Homo sapiens: one gene and its partner. The protein of the gene in region 2 interacts with the protein of the main gene of each other region in a pairwise test. Each region holds a gene or a part of one and is shown on either strand. Other genes may lie near its edges.

What was found.
Region 1: the proteins of RPE (region 2) and EXOSC10 interact in a two-hybrid assay, tested with the Homo sapiens proteins (one large-scale study listed by BioGRID and IntAct).

The regions. Positions count from the first base shown.
Region 1 is NC_000001.11:11,075,811-11,079,628, reverse strand, and holds part of EXOSC10 (exosome complex component 10), read left to right. Parts: intron 1-1,977; coding exon 1,978-2,028; intron 2,029-2,185; coding exon 2,186-2,264; intron 2,265-2,680; coding exon 2,681-2,787; intron 2,788-3,818. UniProt on the Homo sapiens protein: Catalytic component of the RNA exosome complex which has 3'->5' exoribonuclease activity and participates in a multitude of cellular RNA processing and degradation events.
Region 2 is NC_000002.12:210,012,401-210,016,218, reverse strand, and holds part of RPE (ribulose-phosphate 3-epimerase), read right to left. Parts: intron 247-3,818; coding exon 107-246; intron 16-106; coding exon of another isoform or gene 1-15. UniProt on the Homo sapiens protein: Catalyzes the reversible epimerization of D-ribulose 5-phosphate to D-xylulose 5-phosphate.

The DNA of each region.
Region 1 (3,818 bases), on a different chromosome or scaffold from region 2:
TCAGGTCAGGAGTTCGAGACCAGCCTGGCCAACATGGTGAAACCCCGTCTCTACTAAAAATACAAAAAATTAGCCAGGCGTGTGGTGCACGCCTGTAATCCCAGCTACTCCGGAGGCTGAGGCAGGAGAATTGCTTGAATCCGGGAGGCGGAGGTTGCAGTGAGCCGAGATCGCGCCACTGCACTCTAGCCTGGGAGGCAGAGCGAGACTCCGTCTCAAAAAAAAAAAAAAAGATTTTCTACTGAAGGGTCCCAACTTAGCAAGCCTGTTTTTTTTTTGTTTGTTTGTTTTTTGTTTTTTTTAGACGGAGTCTCGCTCTGTCTCCAGGCTGGAGTGCAGTGGCATGATCTCGGCTCACTGCAACCTCCGCCTCCTGGATTCAAGCAGTTCTCCTGACTCAACCTCCTGAGTCGCTGGGATTACAGGCATGCACCACCACGCCTGGCTAATTTTGTATTTTTAGTAGAGGCGGGGTTTCACCATGTTGGCCAGGCTGGTCTCGAACTCCTGACCTCAGGTGATCCACCACCTGGGCCTCCCAAAGTGCTGGGATTACAGGCGTGAGCCATCATGCCCAACTTTAGCAGGCCTGTTTTTTCTGCTAGTGTCTTATTCCTTGTGGCTTCCTAGATTCATGAGCTGGTCTGCATTCTAAACAACCCTAGGGAAATAATAGGGCTTAGGAAATCCAGTGTGTGTGTCTTGATGAATTTAGCTGCTTTTTTTTATGATAGTTGAGAGCTAAGACTCTTTATTTATGACCTTAGCTTTGATGATTCAGCAGCAAGTACTGTCTGGTAACTGGGCCAATTCACTGTTCTAAGGCAGTTAATGTGGTGGAGTGAGATGGAGCGGTGACCTCAGCAGAGGGAGCTAGTTTTGGGAGCCTGGCGATGGCCCAGATGTGAAGTGATAGCTCCCTGAATGAGTGAGGAATCACACACTGAGAAGGAAAGAACAGGTGTAGGAAGCATCAGAAGAAAAGATTGATGAGACTTCGTAGCAAATGCTGACAATGGCAGCCAGTTTTCTTTTGTTTTTTTTGTTGTTGTTGTTGTTTTGAAACAGGGTCAGCCGGGCGCGGTGGCTCACGCCTGTAATCCCAGCACTTTGGGAGGCCGAGGCGGGCGGATCACGAGGTCAGGAGATCGAGACCATCCCGGCTAAAACGGTGAAACCCCGTCTCTACTAAAAATACAAAAAATTAGCCAGGCGTAGTGGCGGGCGCCTGTAGTCCCAGCTACTTGGGAGGCTGAGGCAGGAGAATGGCGTGAACCCGGGAGGCGGAGCTTGCAGTGAGCCGAGATCCCGCCACTGCACTCCAGTCTGGGCGACAGAGCGAGACTCCGTCTCAAAAAAAAAAAGAAACAGGGTCTTGCTCTGACACCCAGGCTGGAGTGCAGTGGTGCAATCATGGCTCACTGTAGCCTCGCATCTGCTAGGCTCCCACCTTAGCCTCCTGAGCAGCTGGGACCACAGGCATACACCACCATACCCAGCTATGTTTTTTTTAATTTTTTGTAGAGATGGGTCTTGCTGTGTTTCCCAGACTGGTCTTGAACCCGTGGGCTCAAGCAGTCCTCCCACCTCAGCCTCCCAAAGTACTGGAATTACAGTTGTGAGCCACCTGCCAGCCCCACATTTGCAATTTTTGTGTTAAAAATGTCTTTGTAAGCTCTGTACTTTGTCCAAGTAAAGAGAGACCTTGATTACTAGAGAAGAGTCTTTTTCAAGCTCTTTGGAATCCTTCCTATTGTGCTTAGTCATGTTAAAGAGCTTTATTCTTTCATTCTACAAATAATTATTGAGCACCAAATAATTATCATGCCAGGCACTGTAAGGAGTGAAGAGAGGAAAGAAAATCTCTGGGCTTTTGAGAAACAGGCTGGTGAAGGAATACAGTCAGCGCTGGAGACTGGGGGTTGGACTTGAGGTGCTTGGGCAACTTTCCTCAATTCCCTTCGTTTTTTTCCTTAGTCTGAAGTTGCAGCCGGAGTGAAGAAGAGCGGACCGCTGCCCAGTGCTGAGGTAGAGTGTCGGATCTGTTTTCTCCCCCAGGAGGGAAAACGTCAAGTCACAGCCAGTGCAAGTACACCTCTGACAGAGGCCTGTGCTGACAGCTGGCAGAAAGCTACTGCCGGCTTGCACGTTTTACATGCCAGCCTGCTGGTGTCTTTTAATGCAGAGATTGGAGAATGTTCTCTTTGGACCTCACGACTGCTCCCATGCCCCTCCGGATGGCTATCCAATCATCCCAACCAGTGGTAAAGTCGAGAGCCCTCCTGACTGTCCCGAAGAGGTTGGGACACAGCTACCTTGTCTAAAATTCTGTAGGCTTGGCCGGGCGTGGTGGCTTATGCCTGTAATGCCAGCATATTGGAAGGCTGAGGCGGGTAGATCACCTGAGGTCAGGAGTTTGAGACCAGCCTGGCCAACATGGTGAAACCCCATCTCTACTAAAAATACAAAAATTAGCTGGCATGGTGGTGGGCACCTGTAATCTTAGCTACTTAGGAGGCAGAGGCAGGAGAATCACTTGAACCGAGGAGGCGGAGGTTGCAGTGAGCCGAGATTGTGCCATTGTACTCCAGCCTAGGGGACTACACTAAAACTCCATCTCAAAAAGAAAAAATAAACAAAATTCTGTAGGCTTTGACCTTACTATCTTCTGCTCCTCTAGGATCTGTGCCAGTTCAGAAGCAGGCGAGCCTCTTCCCTGATGAAAAAGAAGATAACTTGCTGGGTACCACATGCCTGATTGCCACAGCTGTCATCACGTTATTTAATGTGAGTAGCACAGAAACTTCACTGAGGTGATGAGGACCCCCTGGGATTTACTGGATTTATTCAGCAGGCTGTCTGCCTGGAGCATTGCATACACTCGGAGACTAATGCTGAGAGCAAAACCCAGCAGTGCTGGGAGAGGCATAGAGACCAATGAGCAAGGTGGCACTGACCACTCTGGAGGAGGTGGTCTGGGGACGTGGATGGGGGATTCTCTTGAGCTCTGTGTGAAGAAATCTTCCAGGAAAGGCTGACGTCCTGTTGTTGAACAGCACCTAGTGGGAGGAGGGCCTGCGCTAAGAGAACATACAAGCAGGGCTTTCCAGACAAGCTGCAGTGGTGGTGGAGGAAAAACGGTTCACCTGGATGCCCAGCAGGGGTGGCATGGGTGTACTGTCCGATGAACTGTAGAATGTGCGCTGCCCATAGCTTCCTGCCTGACCCCAGCACCACATATGTGTGCTTTCAGTGAAGAAGAGAAATGATTTTTTTTTTTTTTGAGACAATCTTGTTCTGCCACCAAGGCTGGAATGCAGTGGCACAATCATGGCTCACTGCAGCCTTGACTTCTGAGGCTCAAACGATCCTCCTGCCTCAGCCTCCTGAGTAGCTGGGATTACAGGCATGAGTCACTGTGCCCAGCTATTTCACTTTTTTTGTTTGTTTGGTTTGGTTTTTTGAGATGGAGTTTCGCTCTTGTTGCACAGGCTGGAGTGCAGTGGCATCATCTCGGCTCACTGCAACCTCCACCTCCCAGGTTCAAGCGATTCTCCTGCCTCAGCTTCCCTAGTAGCTGGGATTGCAGGCGCCCGCCACCATACTTAGCTAATATTTTATATTTTTAATAGAGATGGGGCCACTATGTTGGCCAGGCTGGTCTCGAATGCCTGACCTCAGGCGATCCACCCACCTAAGCCTCCCAAAGTGCTGGGATTACAGGCATGAGCCACCACACCCGGCATTTTTTTTTTTTTTTTTTTTTTTTTTTTTTGTGACAGGATCTCATCCTGTCACCCAGGTGGGAGTGCAGTGGC
Region 2 (3,818 bases):
GGTGACAGAGCAAGACTGTATCAAAAAAAGAGAAAATTTCCTGTTTCCCGCAAATCTTCCCAACTGAGAGTGAATGTTACAAAACACTCTCATCACGATTTCTTACCTTCATCCCATTCTCCCGAATGTCTTTAATCAAAGCCCCTGGGTTCTCAGTAGCCTCGAGATGAAAGGTGTACTGATTGGCTCCTGCTACAGCCATTGGCTTTACCCACTGTTCTGGCTTGGACACCATCATGTGCATGTCTAGAAAGAAAAGACACTTCAAAATATTACTGAAAAATACCTGGCTCATGTTATTGGAAGCCAACCTGTATGTAGTTTTTGCCACTTCTGATAAGAACTCTTTGGCCATCACACAAATCATTATTTAAATAGTTCTAATTCAGTATAGGTAGTTTCCTCTTATTTTGAAGACAAGGATTTATTTAAATTCATTTACAAAAAACACTATTTTCCCACAAAAAGCATACAGTGCTGTATATAAAAAGTTAACATCTAAAAATCAGGAAATCTAGGTCCAGGTCCAGGAAATGCCACTCTAAAAAACTTAAAGAATAAGTCATACTATCCATGCAAACTAGTTTCCTCTAGGAAAAATTAAGTGATCCTTTTCATTTATTCTTTCAATTTATCGAGCTATTGCTGCATCATTAATTATTCTAGGTCCTAGGGTTAGAGCAAAAACATGAAACTCTCCTGTCATAGGGATTACATTCTTAATGCGAGAGTCAAACAATAAACAAAATAAGTAAGTAAAATGCACACTAGGTTGGCAGTTAATATGGCTGGTGTGCCTGGGGAAGGAGATACACCAGTCAGAGGTCAGGGAAGCATGTGGTGAGGAGAAACCCTTCAGCATTCTGCAGGCCACTGGGAAAAACCACCACAGTGAAGTGACAAGATACTATCGACTGAGGAAGCTACGATAGCAATAACCCAGGTGAAAAATGATGGCAGCAATTCGGGATGGATATGTTCTTAAATAAGAGCAAAGAGAGCTGAGGATAGATGAGATGTGGAGGATAAGAGGATCCTCCATGGATAGATAGATGAGAGGAAAATAAAGATGGCATCAAGGATTTTGACCTTATCAACTAGAAGAACGGAACTGCCATTAATTGAGAGGCAAGACTGCAAGAACAAATTTAGGGGGAAGGACATGTTGACTGCAAGAAACCTGATATTCATCCTAATTCTAAAGCTTGATTCATATAAACACATAAGGTGAAAATGGGCATGGCCTTCTTAAAGATCTTGATTTAAAACATAATAGCATTTCATAAGAAGGAGAGGGCAGCTTAAAACAAGCTAAACCAAGAAATAACACTGTGAAGAATCCTGTGTTTGATAGATGGTAGTGAGGAGAGGTTTTAAGTTTTTTATTTTGCTAGAGGAAGCACATTTCTGAAACAGCCAAGCTATATTTAAGAAAAAAATTCTAACATTTCAGAACAATTATGAAATACAATAAAGCCTTGAAAAAAAAAAGTCAGAAAAAGAAAGTATAAAGCTTGACTAATAAAGTCAAGATTAACGTTTGTATTTCTAATCCAGCAAAAGTAATTGTATGAGAACTTTTTTTTTTTTAATAGAGATGAGTTCTCACTGTTTCCCAGGCTGGTCTCGAACTTCTGGCCACAAGTGATCCTCTGACGCTGGCTTCCCGAAGTGCAGGGATTATAGGTATGGGCCACCACACCCGGCCTAAATTAGAACATATTTTAATAGGTAAAACTTTATTCTTAAAAAAATGTATTAAATCTGGTGTTTCTTATTCTTTGCATCATAAACAAGGAAAATTCAAGCCGGTTTAAAATACCTACTCCAGGCCGGGCGCGGTGGCTCACGCCTGTAACCCCAGCACTTTGGGAGGCCAAGGCGGGTGGATCACGAGGTCAGGAGATCGAGACCATCCTGGCTAACACGGTGAAACCCCATCTCTACTAAAAATACAAAAAAATTAGCTGGGCGTGGTGGCGGGCGCCTGTAATCCCAGCTACTCGAGAGGCTGAGGCAGAACAGCGTGAATCCAGGAGGCGGAGCTTGCAGTCAGCCGAGATCGCTCCACTGCACTCCAGCCTGGGCGACAGAGCGAGACTCCATCTCAAAAAAAAAACAAAAAACAAAAAAACCTACTCTATTCATTCCTTAAGTTACCAGACTGCTAGCTATGTCATCCTTACTCAACCTCTAGCATCCAGTAACCACTAGCAACCCTCAATGGAGAAGTTCTATGGTGTTCAGGGAGTCAATGGTTCAGCAAATCTGTGCATAGTTAACATTAGATCAGCAATTCCCAATCATTCTATCATCTATTATAATCATAATCTATTATTCATAAACTTGGTCAACAATATGCTGATTAAAAAGAATCTAAGGTCTATTAAATTCTAAGTTACATTAAAAAAACACTATATATGGCTAGGTGCGGTGGCTCAAGCCTGTAATCCTGGCACTTTGGGAGGCCAAGGCAAGTGGATTGCTTGAGCCCAGGAGTTTACACTCTTAAAAATTATTAAAGACCCCAAGAAACTTCTGTTGATATGGATTATATTTATAGATATTTAATGTATGAGAAATTCAAACTAAGACATTTTAAAGCATGTAATTTTTGGCGGGTTTGGTGGCTCACACCTATAATCTTAGGAGGCTGAGGAGGGAGGATGGCTTGAGCCCAGTTTGAGACCATCCTGGGCAACATAGTAAGACTCCTTCTCAACAACAACAGAATAATTAGCTAGGCATGGTAGTGTGCCCCTGCAGTCCCAGCTACTGGAGGGGAGAGGTGAGGTGGGAGGACTGCTGGAGCCCATCAAGACTGAGGCTTCAGTGAGGTATGAAGGCCACCACTGCACTCTAGCCTGGGTGACAGAGCAAGACTGTCTCAAAAAAAAAAAAAAAAAGGATAACTCTATTACCTATTAATTAAGAGTGGTATTATTTGTTTTACATTTTTGCAAGTTTTCAGTGTCTGGCTTAACAGAAGACACCTATATTCTCACATCTGTTCTGTATCTAATCTGTTGTAATACAGATGTTCTGTAACTTACAATGGGGTTACATCCCAATTAACTCAATCTAAATTGAAAATACTGTTATCTCTAACTGCATTTAATATACCTAACACACCAAACATCATAGCTTAGCCTAGCCTATCTTAAATGTGCTGGGTGGTAATTTTATAAAGGTTAGCTGCAGTGTGCACTCTGTAAACCCTATCAATGAGCTTTTCATTCTTTGTTACATTAAAACCCATTGTTTGTCTTGTATTTTGAATGGGTCTTTTAAGTACTGATTTACTGAGTTACACACATCTTACAAATAGTGACAGATTTCATTCCATAGTACCCCAAAATCACATTTGGTAAAATAACTACAGATCTCATCAGAAAAGCTTGTTAACTGTTGGGACGCTATCAAACCCAGAGTGGTAAGATACACAAGTTTTTTAAAATTCTAATTTTGGGAACAAAAACTGACAAGGTATCTTTCCTTGAAGAGACAGCCTCATTTAGTTAATATTTTTTAAATGTCATTAAAATAGCCAGGTCTGAAAAACCATAGTTGATCTGTCAGTTGTTCTTTCAAACAAACATAGTGTTCTGGAGGAAAGCAGCTAGTTCAGATCACACCTCTATGGTGCAAGTGGTTTTCCTTGAGAAAACCATTATGTTCCAGTATGCAGCAATGCAGCACAAGCACTTTATATGCACTTCCTACTTTGCCACACAAAATATTAAAAAGGCATGTATTCAGGGACCAAGATTTATTAATTTCTACTGCTTCATCAAGGATATTTATTGCAAATGCATGAT